5 linked regions of the Homo sapiens genome follow. The protein of the gene in region 2 interacts with the protein of the main gene of each other region in a pairwise test. Each region holds a gene or a part of one and is shown on either strand. Other genes may lie near its edges.

Region 1 (3,510 bases), on a different chromosome or scaffold from region 2:
ACTGGATAATTCTCTACATGAAGCTGCTGCTGCATCTGTGGCACATAGACCATGGAGTGCCAGTAGCTGTGGTAATAGCACTTGAGCAAGAAAGGGCAACAAAAAAATAAGAAACTTCACTCTTCTCTATTCTTAATGTAATACAGTTCCCCACAGACAAAAAAAAAAAAAAAATAAGAATTGGGCCACGATTTTCAGGTGAGGTAGCAATGACTTTTTTGACCTAAAAACTTGACAGTCTGTTCTCTATTAGAACTTTAGGATCTTTTGCAGCATTTGTATCTCATATTTAAACCTAAGAATTCTTTTAGGAAATAATCTAAAAGACCTGTATACAAAGGTGTCTTTTATAGTATTTTTAAAAGCAAAAAACATTGCACATAGTATTTAACAACAGGGAACTGGATAAATTATATACCCGTAATGAAATACTATACAGGCAACGAAAATCATGCTGTCAAATATTTAAAGAAAAAATGCTTGTATTGTTAAAAGATTTAAAAATTATACAGCATAATCCATAGTTTGTAAAATACAAAATTGTAAGAAAATATATAAAGTATACAGTGATCATAGAGGTGATTTTAGTTTTCTTTATACCACAGTATTTTCAAAATGTACTACAATGGACACTATGATTTCTAATAAGAAAAATACTGAAATATCTATTCAGCATCTCCTGGTATTCTATGATGTAAAAGGCAGAATATTTTTAAATGCCTCAGTGAAATAGATTACAAAGTTTCCACATGTGACTATAATAAACTAACATAACAGAAGGGGCAAGCGGTTTATCAATTCTTGAAACTAAATTTAGGAAAAATAGTCTCAAAGAACAAAAACCCACCCCATTACTCTTAATTTATAGATGTGTACTATTTGGGAAGACAGTTTTCTTGGCACTGACATGTCTAAAGCTTCAGGGAAATCAGTGTCAGGGAATATGAACTAATCTGAGCATTATCCAGGAGAGCACAGAGTTTATCATCATCTGACAGATCTTAAGATGCATTATTCCTTTCAGTAAATATGCCATCTTGTTACATTTTAAGTCAAGTGTATTTCAGAGGGAAAGTGATCCCTGAAAGACTAAAATAAAAGAGCTCTCACCTCAACTCGGAGACACCTTTCACTGATAAAGACATTTGTCAGTACCCACCTGCCTCTACAACTCAGGGGAGTGGTGAAAAAACAGTGTTGAGCAAGCATCTATGAACACATGAGTGCTTTAAAAATGCAGCTATTTTTATTTTTATATTTATTACACAAGTTTTGGGATACACATGCAGAACATGCAGGTTTGTTACATGGGTATACATGTGCCATGGTGGTTTTCTACACCCATCAATCTGTCACCTACATTAGGTATTTGTCCTAATGCTCTCCCTCCCTTTGCCCCCAACCCCGCGACAGGCCCCAATGTGTGATGTTCACCTCCCTGTGCCCGTATGTTCTCACTGTTCAACTCCCACTTATGAGTGAGAACATGCGGTGTTTGGTTTTCTGTCCTTGTGATAGTTTGCTGAGAATGGTTGCCAGCTTCATCCATGTCCCTACAAAGGACATGAACTCATTCTTTTTTATGGCTGCATAGTATTCCATGGTGTGTATGTGCCACATTTTCTTTATGCAGTCTATCATTGATGGGTATGTGAGTTGGTTCCAAGTCTTTGGCATTGTGAATAGTGCTGCAGTAAACATACATGTGCATGTGTCTTTATAAAATGATTTATAATCCTTTGGGTATATACCCAGTAATGGGATTGCTAAATCAAATTGTATTCCTCATTCTAGATCCTTGAGGAATTACCACACTGTCTTCCACAATGGTTGAACTAATTTACACTCCAACCAACAGTGTAAAAGTGTTCCTATTTCTCCACATCCTCTCCAGCATCTGTTGTTTCCTGACTTTTTAATGATTGCCATTCTAACTGGCATGAGATGGTATCTCATTGTGCTTTTGATTTGCATTTCTCTAATGACCAGTGATGAGTTCTTCCTGTTTGTTGGCCACATAAATGTCTTCTTTTGAAAAGTGTCTGTTCATATTCTTTGCCCACTTTTTGATGGGGTTGTTTATTTCTTGTAAATTTAAGTTCCTTGTAGATTCTGGATATTAGCCCTTTGTCAGATGGATAGATTGCAAAACTTTTCTCCCATTCTGTAGGTTGCCTGTTCACACTGATAGGTTCTTTTTCTGTGCAGAAGCTCTTTAGTTTAATTAGATCCCACTTGTCAATTTTAGTTTTGCTTTTGTTGCCATTGCTTTTGGTGTTTTAGTCATGAAGTTTTTGCCCATGTCTATGTCCTGAATGGTAATGCCTAGGTTTTCTTCTAGGGTTTTTATGGTTTTAGGTCTTACATTTAAGTCTTTAATCCATCTTGAGTTAATTTTTGTATAAGATGTAAGGAATGGGTCCAGTTTCAGTTTTCTGCATATGGCTAGCCAGTTTTCCCAGCACCATTTATTAAATAGGGAATCCTTTCCCCATTCCTTGTTTTTGTCAGGTTTGCCAAAGATCAGATGGTTGTAGATGTGTGGTGTTATTTCTGAGTCCTCTGTTCTGTTCTATTGGTCCTATTGGTCTATATACCTGTTTTGGTACCAGTACCATGCTGTTTTGGTTACTGTGGCCTTGTAAAATAGTTTGAAGTCAGATAGCACGATGCCTCCAGCTTTGTTCTTTTTGCTTGGGATTGTCTTGGCTATATGGACTCTTTTTTGGTTCCATATGAAATTTAAAGTAGTTTTTTCTAATTCTGTGAAGGAAGTCAATGGTAGCTTGATGGGAATAACATTGAATCTATAAATTACTTTGGGCAGTATGGCCATTTTCATGATATTGATTTTTCCTATCCATAAGCATGGAACGTTTTTCCCTTTGTGTCCTCTCTTATATCATTGAGCAGTGATTTGTAGTTCTCCTTGAAGAGGTCCTTCACATCCCTTGTAAGTTGGATTCCTAGGTATTTTATTCTCTTTGTAGCAATTGTGAATGGGAATTCACTCATGGTTTGGCTATTATTGGTGTATAGACATGCTTGTGATTTTTGCACACTGATTTTGTGTTGCACACAACTTCAACTTTGCTGAAGTTGCTTATCAGCTTAAGGAGCTTTTGGGCTGAGACAATGGGGTTTTTAAAATATACAGTTATGTCATCTGCAAACAAAGACAAAGTGACTTCCTGTCTTCCTATTCGTATACCCTTTCTTTCTTTCTTTCTCTTACCTGACTGCCCTGGCCAGAACTTCCTATACTATGCTGAATAGGAGTGGTGAGAGAGGACATCCTTGTCTTGTACCGGTTTTCAAAGGGAATGCTTCCAGCTTTTGCCCATTCAGTATGATATTGGCTGTGGGTTTGTCATAAATAGCTCTTATTAATTTGAGATACATTCCATCAATACCTAGTTTATAGAGAGTTTTTAGCATGAAGGGGTGCTGAATTTTATAGAAGGCCTTTTCTGCATCTATTGAGATAATCATGTGGTTTTTGTCATTGGT
Region 2 (3,520 bases):
TTGGACAGCCCCCACACGAGCACGAGATGCTTCGCCACCCAGTTTTCGGTAAGACTTCCCCTCCAGGAGGGGCGGGGAGGCCGTGTGAGGGTTGGGTTGGGGTCTGGTCTGCTGTCTTCATTCATTACTCATTCATTCATTCATGCATTGAGCAGGTGGGTTCGCTCCCCCTGCATGCAGGGGGTCCGTGGGGGAACAAGCCTCCTGCCCTCTGGGGGCTGTCTGGGGTAGGGGTCATAAATGCATCAGCCTTGCTAAGAGCCGGTGAAAGTAGCAGAGGGGACTCACGGCAGGTCTCTGAAGGAGAAGCACTTGGGCTGAGGCCTTGGAGGAGGGGCCAGGCAGGTCCAGGCAGAGGCACCCAAGGGCACCTCCTGCCTCCCCAGAGGCTCTGCCCTCTGGCTGTCTGCAGAGTCTGGGAGGGGCTGGCTCCTGTGTCCGAACTGGCACCTCTCCTGTGCTCTTTGCCGTTTGCTGTGCCTGTGCCGCCCTGGTCTTGGCCAGTCCTCTGGCTATTTCTGTAGCGCAGGTTGTTTTGTGTTCGGCAGGCACCCCCTACCCCCGTGACCTGCCTGGGGCCATCCCACCCCCCATGTCAGCAGCCCACCAGCTGCAGGCCATGCATGCCCAGTCGGCCGAGCTGCAGAGACTGGCCATGGAGCAGCAGTGGCTGCATGGACACCCCCACATGCATGGTGGCCACCTACCAAGTCAGGAAGATTATTACAGGTGAGGTGGGGTGCTGGGAGGGAGTGGAGGGGTTATCTGAGCCCAGGCTCCCAACCTCCCCGTGTGCCCAGGGCCAGGCTCCTCCCCCTCTGCCTGCTGGGCCCTGGAGGGGACATTGTGGAACCATGGTGATGGGAGAAACAGAGGAAGGGAGGTGTTGGGAGGGTAGGTCAGCTACACAGGAGGCTGCGGGCTTGGGGTTGGATTGCCTGGCTGTTGTCTTTGGGGTTGCCTCCAGCCTGCGTGACTGCCTGCCTAGGCCTGAGACTAAATACGCTTTCCTGTTTTGTCTTTCCAGTCGACTGAAGAAAGAAGGTGACAAGCAGTTATAAGTTATTTATTTGTTAACGCTGGCTGTGGAAACCCCAGTTCTTGGGGGGAGAAACAGGACTTTTTACATAAAATAGGAGCTGCAAAAGCAAAAAGAATATCTTCTAAAGATTTCTTTATATATTTAAAAACCCACAACTAAAAATGTATCCACATAGTAGTGTTCGTTTGTCGAGAGGATTTCCTGAGACTGGTTTGGATCTCCCTGCATGACAGTCCCCCAGAAACTTAGTGAGTCCTGGACTGGACTGAACATCCAGAAAGCTTCCCTGCAATCTTGGGGTTTGGCTTTAGTTTTCTTTTCCTTGATTTCTCAGTAGGTGCTAGAATCCAGTTCACACCCTTCACTGTGCGTGCAGACACACTGACACACTCCGCCACGAGTGCTCCAGAGCCCACGAGGCTTGCAGATCGGGGGCATAGGAATTTGGAATCCAAGAGCTATAATTTTTAAAAAAAAAAATCTTTTATTTTAATACATTGTAGGAAATCTTCATAATTGGAGAAAGTTCTGCAGCATGGCTTTTTACGTCTGTAAATAAATAATTTTAGAACAGCCTTTTTTTCTTCCATAAACTACTATTGTGATCTATTTTTTCCAGCCATGTCACTAATTGTGAATTCCTACCAACTATTGACAGAATACAGAGTTGATTTTTTAATAAAAAGTTATATATAATTATCCCTTTAATTAAAGGGAGCAAAGGGGCGTTCCACATGGACAGAGGCTTGGACCGAGGCCTGGTCACAGCAGCGAGCATCCAGGGTTTGCAGGGACGATGTTACAGACTCTGTTTTCTGCCTGGCGTTTCACTTGTGTCTGCTCCTAGCCTGTGCTCTGCCAGCAGCACAGACATCTGCTCCATCAGACCTCTTCCATTTTGCACAGGGAGTGCAGGAGGTGAATGTTCACTTTCTGTTCTCCAGTGTCACTGTTCTGTTTCCACGGGATGGAAAGCGCATGGGCCTGTGTCCATTGTAGATTTCCTTCTAGATTTCTGTGTACACACACTTGATTGTTCTGGATGAATGTCTTTTTTAATACTCCGAAAATTTCATCATCTAAGAAAATGATTCCATACAAATAACTCAGCACACAAGTGACCCAGGACATATGCCTGCCAAAGGGATGTGTTAGAAGGCTGCCTTCTCATGCGCATTGTCACTTGGATCTTGTGGTGAGGACGGCCCCATCTTTCTTGCCACAGATTGAGGCCACTTTTGAGCAAGGGAGATCCTGGAGTTAAGACAGGTGTTGGGGGCAGCCTGTATTTTACCCTAGGGGCAGGTCTGCATGGTGACCCCACATTGCACTGGTAAACCATTTGAGTCCCACTCTTCATCCTGGAAGTGGGAACTGGAGTCCCACCCACAGTGCATTCAGAAAGCATGCTGTGTGGGGGCTGCTTCTCAGGAGGCCAGGCCCTTCTGAGCGGAACCGTCCTGGAGAGAGCCTGCCCTCGTTTCCAGGCTGCAGCCGTAACGCACTTTCTCCCAGGCTGAGGGCGGGTGTTCTGGGGTGTCTGCCCTCTGTCGGCCCTGCTTCCTGCCAGGACGTGGCCTCTTCCGATCCTTTTCTCTCAGACACTGGAGGTCTCTTCTGCCATTGTGCTGGTCCCATCCCAAGAATTGTAGGACAGAGACCACACTGGGTCGGCGGACACAAAGTCCATCCAGGACCCAGGCCGCAGAGGGAGCAGGAAGAGATGCTGATAGTTTGATCTAGAAACCAGCAGCTACTGGCTCAAATTCAGGTTCTGGCGTCAAATAGCGACATTTCCAGTTTCTCTTAAAAACCGTGTTTGGTTTCAGTTGGGATAGGCTTGTTTTGTCTGTTGAAAATGTTTCTAGTTTTTTTTCTTTCATTTTTCTCTCATTCCATTTCTGCCTTAACTTTAGTTTGTTCACAGGGAGGCAAAGCTGACATGAACCTTTTGTCGTGGGACTTCAGGCCACATTGGCTTGAAGGCATTCGTTTCCTTCTGGGGTGGGGACAGGCCCTCATGGCAGGCTTGTTCCCGTGGCTCTGAGCGAGGCCTCTTCCTGCTGGGCTCCCAGACTCCTGCATCCAGGCCCCCACCTTCTCGGCTTCTGGTTTTTCTTTCTTTTTGGTAGAACACAACATCTACCATTCAGTTAAACCTTCTTTATCTCCTCCTTTGGCATCCATTTTTCCAAAGAAGAGTCGAGTCCTCTGAGGTCTGTGCTTGAAAGCCGTCCGAAGGCATTCTTGTTAGCTTTGCTTTTCTCCCCATATCCCAAGGCGAAGCGCTGAGATTCTTCCATCTAAAAAACCCTCGACCCGAAACCCTCACCAGATAAACTACAGTTTGTTTAGGAGGCCCTGACCTTCATGGTGTCTTTGAAGCCCAACCACTCGGTTTCCTTCGGATTTTCCTCCCTTTGTTCGGGGTTTGGTTTGGCTCCTCTGTGTGTGTCCGTATCTTGTTCGGTGTCCTCG
Region 3 (3,520 bases), on a different chromosome or scaffold from region 2:
GAGCTCCAGGCAGATGGGGCAGGTCACCTCCTTCTCTATGTCTACCTTTACTGAGAAATCCATTGCACTGCTCCCTTGGCTTCCTTCTGTCTTGACTCTTGAAGTTCTTGGTCACAAACTCCTGCAGTGCTGAGAATGTTGAAGGGGACAGGGTAAGAAAAGAAGGAATAGAAAGAATACTGCTTTTACAGAGATTTAGAACAGGACAAAACATTAATATTTAACAGAGAAAGGAGAAAAGAAAGGCATGAAGAATAAACCAATGACAGAATAAAATGGACTTTGTAGTAATTTCAAACACTTTATTCTTAATTTTTGTCTCAGGACAAATTTCACCCCATCAAGGCAATTATTGTTATTTTCTCTTCTACTGGAGAGGACAAACTGAGGCTCTTCTACCAAGAGCTTCGTGTAACCCATCATTTGTCCTGCCTTTTGTTCCCCAACCCAAAACACATTTTCCATGTTAAATGCACTAAACACACCCCTGCCCCTGGGCTTGCACACAGGCTTTTCTCTCTGAATGGCATGATTGTATCCCCAATATTTGCATGATTCATGAATATTTGCATATTTTTAAGCTATTGAATTGTATTTACATAGCATCAAACACTGCATCAAACATCATTTTTAAGTGTATCATGCAATAATTTCTAGTAAATCTGTGGAACTATATAACTATTACTGTAACCCAATTTAAAATTATTTTTATCACCTGAAAAAAAAAAACCCTAATGCCATCACTCCTATTCTGATCCCAAGCTCCAGGCAACCACTACTAATATCCTTTGGGTTTTTAATCAGTTGATAAAAATAGAATCATAATATATGTCTTTGGTGTCTGAATTATTTTACTTATACTGTTAAGGTTTATCTCCTCTGACTTTTTTCCCCATGTAAAAAATACCTCCTCAATTAAACTATCAAATCTATGGCTCCTCAAGGCTTTTGCACTTGCTCCTCTCTCTGCATAAAATGATCCTCCCCCTGATGTTAGCAAGACTCACTCTTACATTTAATTCAGTCTCCTCTTAGAAGTCCTCTTCTTAGAAGGACATACTATAATTTACTTATAGCAAAACCACCAGTACTGTCACTCACTGCACATTTAGCTTCTTATTTTTACTATGTAATATATAAGATTGTTCTTTAAATGTCTACTTCTTCCTCCTGAAAAGTAATCCATTCATAGACCTGGGACTTTTTTTGTTCACTGATATGTCCTCTATACCTAGAAAAGTGAATCACATACAGGAATAAAACATTTAACGAATATATAAAGCCACAACTTCCTTATCCCTCCATAGATGATTAGACCTTTTAATCAGATTTTCATCTTTTCTTTCCATCAATTAGCAGTTTCCCAATAGCTGACCTTTGGGACCACAATTATGGTTTCCAGTGAAGAAGTGTTTACATCCTAACACATCTACCCATAGCAAGTCCTCCCATGACCTCACACTCCATCCCCAAAGACATACACACACACCCACACACCACCACCACCAACACCATAATAGGAAAATAATTTTATCATGAACAATTTTATAAGCAGTTACAATTTAGAAATCATTTTGACTTCTTTATTCTTCATACAAAACCCTTGAGAAATAAGAATACTCCCTTTCTTCAGGTGTGTCAATAGAATCAAGTGACTTACAAAGATCACTCATTCTAATCTAATAGGTAGAGTAAGAGTGAATGTATTGTCCCCAAGGTCCTCCTTCAGAGTTCTCTCCACTGCAGCACAGATTTATACAGACAACAAAGGTAAAGGCTACAAGAGCTATACTGATACCCAGTGCTATTGGGGGTATAGAAATGGAGAGATCCAGACCAGCTATGTAGTTCTGGGGCATGCTGTGGTTTTAAATGTTGAAATTTCACCTTGGCCTGGACATATGGCAAGGATGGTGATAGGAACCTAAAGATGTATATATTTTGGGAAGAGGAAAAGAGGCTAAAATAGTTATAGGATCACACACATGATATAGACTCAATATACATTTCAAAGAAACATCTGTTGGTCATGGGAGAAAAGTCTCAATCCATAAAGGAGGCCAAGTACATTGAGAATATGTAGCAGAGAGATAAAGTCTGTCCTGTTTCTCCCCAAATGATGTTGAAATCCTAATGTGTGAATGTGCTCTTATTTGAAACTAGTATATTTAAATACTATTTAGTTACCATGTGCTCATTAGGGTAGACCCTTATCCAACATGACTGTGTCCTTATCAAAAAGGGACATTTATACACAAGGAATATGCCAGGGTGAAGAAGAAAGCAGAGATCAGGGTGATGCACCTATAAGCCAAGGAATGCTAAAGGTTTCCAGGAAACTATTAGAAGCTAGAAGAGAGGCATGGACCAGAGGCCTCCTTCATAGCCTTCAGAAGGAACCAGCCCTGTCAACACATTTTATCTTGGATAACTAGCCTCCAGAATTGTAAGGCAATATATTTCTGCTATTTAAGCCAACCACTTTTGGTACTTTTTCTATGACAGCTCTAGAAAACTAATACAAGTGCTTATTTTTCTTGATTTATTCATTCTTTTTTTTTTTTTTTTTTTTTTGAGACGGAGTCTCACTCTGTCACCCAGGCTGGAGTGCAGTGGTGCGATCTCGGCTCCTTGCCAGCTCCGCCTCTCGGGTTCACGCCATTCTCCTGCCTCAGCCTCCAAGTAGCTGGGACTACAGGCGCCCGCCACCACACCCGGGTGATTTTTTGGTGTCTTTTTAGTAGAGACGGGGTTTCACTGTGTTAGCCAGGATGGTCTCGATCTCCGGACCTCATGATCTGCCCGCCTCGGCCTCCCAAAGTGCTGGGATTACTGGCGTGAGCCACCGCGCCCGGCCTATTCATTCTTTATTCTAACATTGAAGAAATGTAGCCCCATTGAAACCCTTCCGACCTAAGACAGGTAGACAGACAGACACATAAACAAAATGCATGCTCCCCTTTGAAGGTGGTGCGAATGTAGAAGTTTCTATGACACGGTGAAGGCTAACTAGGTCCGTAGCTTCCTTGTTTCAGAATACTCTGATTACCTGCACAGAAGCTTTCTTTATCTGTGCAATTTAAATCAAAAAAAAAAAAAAAAAAAAGATGGCCAGGCGCTGTGGCTCAAGCCTGTAATCCCAGCAGTTTGGGGGGCCGAGGCGGGCAGATTACCTGAGGTCAGGAGTTTGAGGCCAGCCTGGCCACTATGGTGAGACCCCGTATCTACTAAAAAATATATATATATACAAACATTAGCCAGGTGTGACAGCAGTTGCTTGTAGTCCCCGCTACTCTGGAGGCTGAGGCAGGAGAATCACTTGAACCCAGGAGGCGGAGGTTGCAGTGAGCTGAGATCACACCACTGCACTCCAGCCTGGCAACAGAGCAAGACTCCGTCAAAAGAAAAAAAAAAAAAAAGATTAAATTAAATTAGTGTGGCTACACAATAAGGAGAAAAATTATAAGGGGTTTAGCCATCAATATCTTTTTTTTTTTTTTTTGAGACAAGGTCTCACTGC
Region 4 (3,520 bases), on a different chromosome or scaffold from region 2:
CCTGTCATCCTTTGATTTTTCCTCGCTTCCTGCCTCTTGGCCCTTCCTTTTTGTCTGACTTCACTCGGGCCCAGTCTGGCTCTATACTGTTAACTGGTTAGTTAGGCCAGGAGATAGTCGCTGCCTCTCCCATGAGCTTCTGCATACCTGTGAATTTTGGTTATCTGTGGCCCCCTAATGCTGATTGCATGCCCTTGCCTTAGGCCCTAAGCCCACTGTGTGGGCGTCCCATCTCGTACAGTGGCCGTCTCCAGCCTCCACTGGGCCCAAATAGGTAAAAAGAAAGCCTGGGGAAGGAAGAGCCAGGAAACCTCGGGAGAGTGGAATTTCAGGAATGGCAGGTCAGAACTGGTTCCAGCATGGGTCCCTTTGCCTTGTGCTTAGCTGAGGGATTTTTGTTATTAATTTTTTTTTTCCTGTTCAACACTCCTAACCTCTTTTGAATTTCAGTTCTCTTTTTTTATCCTGAAGGATTATTTTATTGTACTTTTGAGGGTTTTTTTTTTTTTTTTTTTTTGCCTTGCACAAAGTACTGACTCATGTTGCTAATGGCTGTGGCTGTATGCTAGTTATATGTCTCATTATCCTACCCCTTAAGATTGATCATTTCTGTGTTGGTTTCTATTTCAAACCAGAATAGGCCAGGTGGGTCAATTCATGTATTTCTGAATTCAATAATGAGGCTTCCCTACCGTGAAATGTACATATCTTGTCATGGGCGGACAGGTACTAAATAGAGCCTATCTATACTAGATTTTAAAACAATGGATTTCTCCCCAAAAAACAACATTTCCAGCAGACAATGGGCTTTGTGCTCCAAATCTTGTAATTTTGGTTTTAAATAAATTTCATGTAAGGAGGCAGGGCTAACTAGACTGTCTTCTTTTCAGATCATAACTTGATCTCTTTTTAAGATTATTTCTGGGACTTGTACAGCCTCAGGAAACTTGGGTCTGTCATTGGGACAAAGAAATACAGGCACTGGCTGTGGTGTTGGAGATGGGAGCGACATGGGATATGGTGAGCTTTGTTTCTGGTGAAATAGAATTGTTTGTCATTAGCTTTAGGTTTAAAAGGTGCCATTCAGACTGGACCTCCTCACCTGGGAGCTGGCAGACCTGGGCCTTGCCATTGGCGATATTACTGTTTATACCTCTGGGTGGCACGTGGGAAATCTCTTTTGTGCTGGGAGGTAGGTTTGTCTTAGTGTCTTGAGCCAGAAGTTGTGGTTGAGCTTTGTTCTCAGCTGTACTTGTTGGTTTTCTGTGTGACCTGAGAAGCATCCTTCGTCCGAGCTGAAGTGCACCTCCGAGGTGCTGGCAGCAGCACTGATTTGTGAAGCATTGCGTGCAGCAGGAGTAGCTGGCAGAACAAAGCCTATCTCAAGTTGCTGGCGGTCTTTCACATCTTGTACAGGACTTCCTTCCGTTCTTACCTCTGCAGCCAGTTGTGTGGCTTCCGTCTGGACCGTCTTCCTCCTTTCCAAGATAACCATCAGTCTTTTTCTCTGTGGGGCTGCAGCAGCAGTATTTATTGCATTTTTAATTGACTTGTCAGGCAATAGATACTCCTTGAGCACCTATCATTTGCCAGGCATTGTACAAGGCCCTTTAAATACATTTTTCTTGTGGTAGGGCAAGGTGGCTCATGCCTGTAATCCCAGTACTTGGGGAGGCCAAGGCAGGTGGATTGCTTGAGGCCAGGTTAAGACCAGCCTGGGCAATGTGATGAAAATAAAAAAATGCCTCTTAAAAGAAAAAATTAGTAGGGTATAGTGGCGCATGCCTGTAGTTCTAACTACTTGGGAGGCTGAAGCAGGAGGATCACTTGAGCTTGGGAGGTTGAGGTTGCAGTGAGCCGTGATCATGCCACTGCACTCTAGCCTGGGCGACAGAGTGAGACCCTGTCTCAAAAGAATAAAAAGTAGGTCGGGCACGGTGGCTCACGCCTGTAATCCAAGCACTTTGGCAGGCCGAGGTGGGCGGATCACCTGAGGTCAGGAATTCAAGACCAGCCTGGCCAACATGGTGAAACCCCGTCTCTGCTAAAAATACAAAAATTAGCTGGATGCCGTGGCGAGTGCCTGTAGTCCCAGCTACTCAGGAGGGGTGAGGCTGGAGAATCACTTAAACCTGGGAGGTGGAGGTTGCAGTGAGCCGAGATTGTGCCACTGCATTCCAGCCTGGGAGACAGAGTGAAATTCTGTCTCAAAAAAAAAAAAAAAAAAAAAGTCTGGGCACGGTGGCTCACACCTATAATCCCAGCATTTTGGGAGGCTGAGGTGGGCGGATCACGAGGTCAGGAGATCGAGACCATCCTGGCTAACACGATGAAACCCCGTGTCTACTAAAAATACAAAAAATTAGCCGGGCGTGGTGGCGGGCGCCTGTAGTCCCAGATACTCAGGAGGCTGAGGCAGGAGAATGGCATGAACCCGGGAGGCGGAGTTTGCAGTGAGCCGAGATCACGACACTGCACTCTAGCCTGGGCCACAGAGCGAGACTCCATCTGAAAAAAAAGGAAAATACTGAAAAGAATAAATGCCAAAATAAATATATAAATCACTTGTGACCTCACCATCCAGAGCTAACTGCAGTAAAGTTGCTGGTGTGTTTCTTTCCTCTGATAATGTCTGTGTTTTCTAAATTAGAGCAATAGTATATATACATTGAATACACAGTTGATAGCTTGCTTTTCCCCTTTTAATGTTATAGTGTATTCCTCTACGTTATTTTTATAATTATATAATTGCTATTATACGGATATGCCATAATTTATTGACTCCTGTATTCGTAGACATTTAGATTATTGTTGCCCTCTTTTCCCTCCTATAAGAGAAACTGTAGGGAGCATCTCGGCATGTTAAGTCTTGGTCCACGTGGCTGATTATCTCCCATAAGTGGAATTTCTGGGGTCAGAGGATTGCAGGTTTGTTCTTCTCTTCTGGACAGGATCGGTTGTCTCCTTCAGTCTTTGTCACCTCCCTCTCCAGCCTTGAGCCCAAGGCAGTCTCTTTCTTAGTTTTTTCTTTTTTGAGGCAGGGTCTCACTTTGTCGCCCAGTCTGGAGTGCAGTGATGTGATCTCAGCTCACCGTAACCTCTGCATCCTGGGCTCAAATGATCCTTCTGCCTTAGCCTCCCAAGTAGCTGGGATCCTATAGGCATGCGCCACCATGCCTGACTAAGTTTTGTATTTTTTTGTGGAGACGGGGTTTCGCCATTTTGCCCAGGCTGTTTGTTTTTCTTTTCTTTTCTTTCTTTTTTTTTTTGAGATGGCATCTTGTTCTGTTGCGCAGGCTGGAGTGCAGCCGTGCGATCTTGGCTCACTGCAACCTCCACTTCCTGGGTTCAAGCAATTCTCGTGCCTCAGCCTTCGAGTAGCTGGGATTACAGGCGTGCACCACCACACCTGGCTACTTTTTGTATTTTTAGTAGAGACGGGGTTTTGCCATGTTGGCCAGGCTGGTCTCGAAATCCTGACCTCAGGTGATCCACCTGCCTTGGCCTCCCAAAGTGCTGG
Region 5 (3,520 bases), on a different chromosome or scaffold from region 2:
ACCAGAGGTCACACAGGTGCTAAGTGCAGAGCTGACCTTCCAACCCAGGAAGGCGGGTGCCAAAGTCACAGCTGGCAAAAGTCACCATCAGGTTATTCACTGGGAATTTGAAATTATGCTGTCAAGCTACTCTACAGATGTACCCCTTTGGTTTCTCAAGTTTCTTTTCATCGAACTTGCCACAGACTTATTTTCCTCATTCAGGAGTAAAGAAATGGGGCTCCTGCTTCTCATTACCTTGGAGGGATTCTCCCCCACTCACGTTTATATCTCTTTTAAGCTCTCATTTGACGACGTTTCACTTATATCACTTGCACCATGGCATCATCTGCCTAGGGTTTTCTGTTTATTTTCACAGAGCATACACATCACTGTGTATTCTAGAAACAGCTGTAGGCTCGTATTAGCAAAGTGATAAGAATCTGGGGCTTTGAAGACATGTAGGATATTAGCTAACTGAACTGTGCTATGAGATTGTTTCCCTTTCTTCTTGGCAAACCATTTCAGAGCAGCCTGGTGTGGAGACTGTGTTACTGAAATGGGGCCATAGGAGCCTCCAGACTCCTTTCTCCCTGCCAGAGGCTGATTAGGTAGATCCCATAGTGCAGAACTCCATGTCACCACCACATACGTGTATGGCACACGTGGGCCAATGGAAAGGGTCCAGGAGTTCTTACTTTCTAACTGGTCATGTGTAAGGAAGAGAGCACCTTCCTCCCTTAACACCAAGGGTTTCAATAGAGACCACTGAGCTGCTACATTAAATGAAAGATGCATTTTCTTGTGCCCTGGGATGCTGCCCCTTATTCACCCGTGTTTAGTTTTATCTTCTGTGTAAAAGATACTCGAGTTTAAATGGCTTAAAAATGAAGCAAGGGGCTGGGCACGGTGGCTCACGCCTGTAATCCCAGCACTTTGGGAAGATGAGGCGGGTGGATCACCTGAGGTCGGGAGTTCAAGACCAGCCTGGCCAACATGGCGAAACCCCATCTCTACTAAAAATACAAAAATTCTCTATGAATGGTGGCACATGCCTGTAGTCTCAAATACTAGAGAGGCTGAAGCAGGAGAATTGCTTGAACCTGGGAGGTGAAGGTTGCAGTGAGCCGAGATCATGCTACTGCACTCCAGCCTGGGCAACAGAGTGAGACTCTGTCTCAAAAAAAAAAAAAAAAAAAATGAAGGAAACTTGTCATGCTCTGACTCTTATTTATTTCATATTTTGTTTGTAAGCTTTAAGTACCCCACATCAAGACCTAACCCATGTTGTGATGGTGTCACTTTTCAGAGGGTGCATCGTATTAGCATCTGTTTCGTGTTACTGTCATGAGTCAGAATTCCAGTATTGATGATGAATGCTTCAGCATCTGCTTGATATTCTGATATTGAATTTAAGGATTATGTCAAGGAGATAAAATGATGAGGTTATTCTTATACATGTATTTGGGTTAATACTGATAAAAAAAATCTTGAGTTTATTTAAGATAGACCAACTTTTAATTGTGTTATTTAGTTATATAACTAGACTGGAAAGTTTGGTAGTATTTTTCCCAAAATCAAAAAATTTTGCTGAAAAATTCTTAAGTATCAACTTTTATATACTGAATTATTTTGAATACTTTAGATGTGTACTTTAATGGTACTTGGGAGAAAAAAAAACCAGATAAATGAATGAGTCATTTCCCAAAGTAGTTTGTAGACCGTCATTGACATTTATGGTTGAATTCAAGAACAATGCCCAGAACTAAATGAAGAGGTCCTAGAATAAAATATATTCAAGACTTACAACATGTATTGGTTACGGTAGAAACTGTACTGTGATTAATGAAAATAAAATCCTATTTAACTTTTCTAGAAAATATTTAGACTACCTAACAAAGTAAGTTACGTTTCACATAGTAAAACATTTATAGTTCTTTCTTCTTTGGGAATTTTTTTTAGTTATAAGCAGACTATTAAGTGCCTTGCTTATGGAATATGCTAAATACATACCTGTTGACTGTGTGCACACAGGTTATTTCCAACCCAAATTGATCTGTGTAATTCAGCCAGTTTCTAAAATTTGGGATTGGTGTCTATACCATTGAAAGCAGGGTTAAAAGTTTTTTGGAAGGCTTAGGGCTTAAGTTGGATTTCTTCCCACCTCACAATTTTGCAAAGTGCCCATAAATGTGGATTTACTTAATTGTTGATAAAAGGGGGTTATTTCATATGATAACAACAGGATAATCTGTCTAGGGAATTTGACTAACATAAGTCGAGTCACACTTGTGCCCATTTCTTATTGAGCTAATCAAACATGCAGTCCAGCTTCTTCTAATTGCCTGCAGATGTATGACATTCTCATTCCAGGCCAGCAGCACAAAATAATATTTTATAACCAATGTGGAAGTATGGGGACCTCTGTTTAGAACAATAATGTGCTCTAAGGACCTATATTATTGACATCATCATGGAGTTTGAAGAGTCTTCTGTTTTAATAAAGATCTCCACTCCCTTTTAAATGTTGCATATTTATGCCCAGTAATCCAGACACATTTCCTATGGTCTACTGGATAGAATAAATGAATCTTACAGATGAGTCTTATTTGCATAAAAATTATTTCTTTTTTCTATGTATATTTTTTAGCAGGTATAGTTTATCATTATATAACCTAAAACTCAGGACATTTTAAATGTAAGAACTGAAATCTGTACTGTGTTTCAGTCTTCAAATCAATTGTGCCTTTGAATGCACTATACCAGTCACAGATGGCTTCTAAATAATTTAAATAATACCACTAGATATTTTAAATGTACACTATTTTATAAATATATCCTTTAAATAGCTGTCCATTTAACTGTTTAATGAAAACATGATATGTTTATTCCCCTTCATGTATTTTTGGGGGTGTTTTCAGTTTTGTACAAAAACAAGGAGTTTGAAATACAACATAACATTCAAAGATCAGGTCACAGTGAGCAGGTTTTTTTCAGGTAATTTTTTGCTAAATGAGGATCATGCTGTGGGAGCCAGTAACGCTGGGAGTTTCCCATGACTGACATTATTCTTGGCATCTATAAAATGAAGATCATTTCAGTGTTACATACCTGGGGCCATGTATAGATAGAGTTTTCGAAATTAATTGTTTCCATTAGATATCATCTGCCTCAAAGACAACAGATACTCATCTACACCAAAAAGAAGTTGAATGAATGGGGAATATATTATAATCTGTTGATGGCTCACTTTAGTTTTCTACACCTTTATTGCATAGTCTCTTTCTCCTTTTTTTTTGAGACAGAGTCTCACGCTGTCACCCAGGCTGGAGTGCAGAGGTGCTATCTTGGCTCACTGCAACTTCCACCTTCTGGGTTTAAGCAATTCTTGTGCCTCAGCCTCCCGAGTAGCTGTGACTACAGGCGTGCACCACCACACCCTGCTAATTTTTGTATTTTTAGTAGAGATGGGGTTTCACCATGTTGGCCAGGCTGGTCTCGAGCTCCTGACCTCAGATGATGTGCCCACCTCAGCCTCCCA

Evidence for each region.
Region 1: the proteins of RERE (region 2) and ALG13 interact in a two-hybrid assay, tested with the Homo sapiens proteins (one large-scale study listed by BioGRID and IntAct).
Region 3: the proteins of RERE (region 2) and TRIM22 interact in a two-hybrid assay, tested with the Homo sapiens proteins (one large-scale study listed by BioGRID and IntAct).
Region 4: the proteins of RERE (region 2) and PRRC2B interact in a two-hybrid assay, tested with the Homo sapiens proteins (one large-scale study listed by BioGRID and IntAct).
Region 5: the proteins of RERE (region 2) and EFEMP1 interact in a two-hybrid assay, tested with the Homo sapiens proteins (one large-scale study listed by BioGRID and IntAct).

The regions. Positions count from the first base shown.
Region 1 is NC_000023.11:111,754,158-111,757,667, reverse strand, and holds part of ALG13 (UDP-N-acetylglucosamine transferase subunit ALG13), read right to left. Parts: intron 81-3,510; coding exon 1-80. UniProt on the Homo sapiens protein: Catalytic subunit of the UDP-N-acetylglucosamine transferase complex that operates in the biosynthetic pathway of dolichol-linked oligosaccharides, the glycan precursors employed in protein asparagine (N)-glycosylation.
Region 2 is NC_000001.11:8,352,628-8,356,147, reverse strand, and holds part of RERE (arginine-glutamic acid dipeptide repeats protein), read left to right. Parts: coding exon 1-48; intron 49-548; coding exon 549-729; intron 730-1,027; coding exon 1,028-1,061; 3' UTR 1,062-3,520. UniProt on the Homo sapiens protein: Plays a role as a transcriptional repressor during development. May play a role in the control of cell survival. Overexpression of RERE recruits BAX to the nucleus particularly to POD and triggers caspase-3 activation, leading to cell death.
Region 3 is NC_000011.10:5,692,776-5,696,295, reverse strand, and holds part of TRIM22 (E3 ubiquitin-protein ligase TRIM22), read right to left. Parts: intron 130-3,520; 5' UTR 64-129; coding exon 1-63. UniProt on the Homo sapiens protein: Interferon-induced E3 ubiquitin ligase that plays important roles in innate and adaptive immunity.
Region 4 is NC_000009.12:131,397,068-131,400,587, forward strand, and holds part of PRRC2B (protein PRRC2B), read left to right. Parts: intron 1-3,520.
Region 5 is NC_000002.12:55,913,767-55,917,286, reverse strand, and holds part of EFEMP1 (EGF-containing fibulin-like extracellular matrix protein 1 precursor), read left to right. Parts: intron 1-3,520. UniProt on the Homo sapiens protein: Binds EGFR, the EGF receptor, inducing EGFR autophosphorylation and the activation of downstream signaling pathways. May play a role in cell adhesion and migration. May function as a negative regulator of chondrocyte differentiation.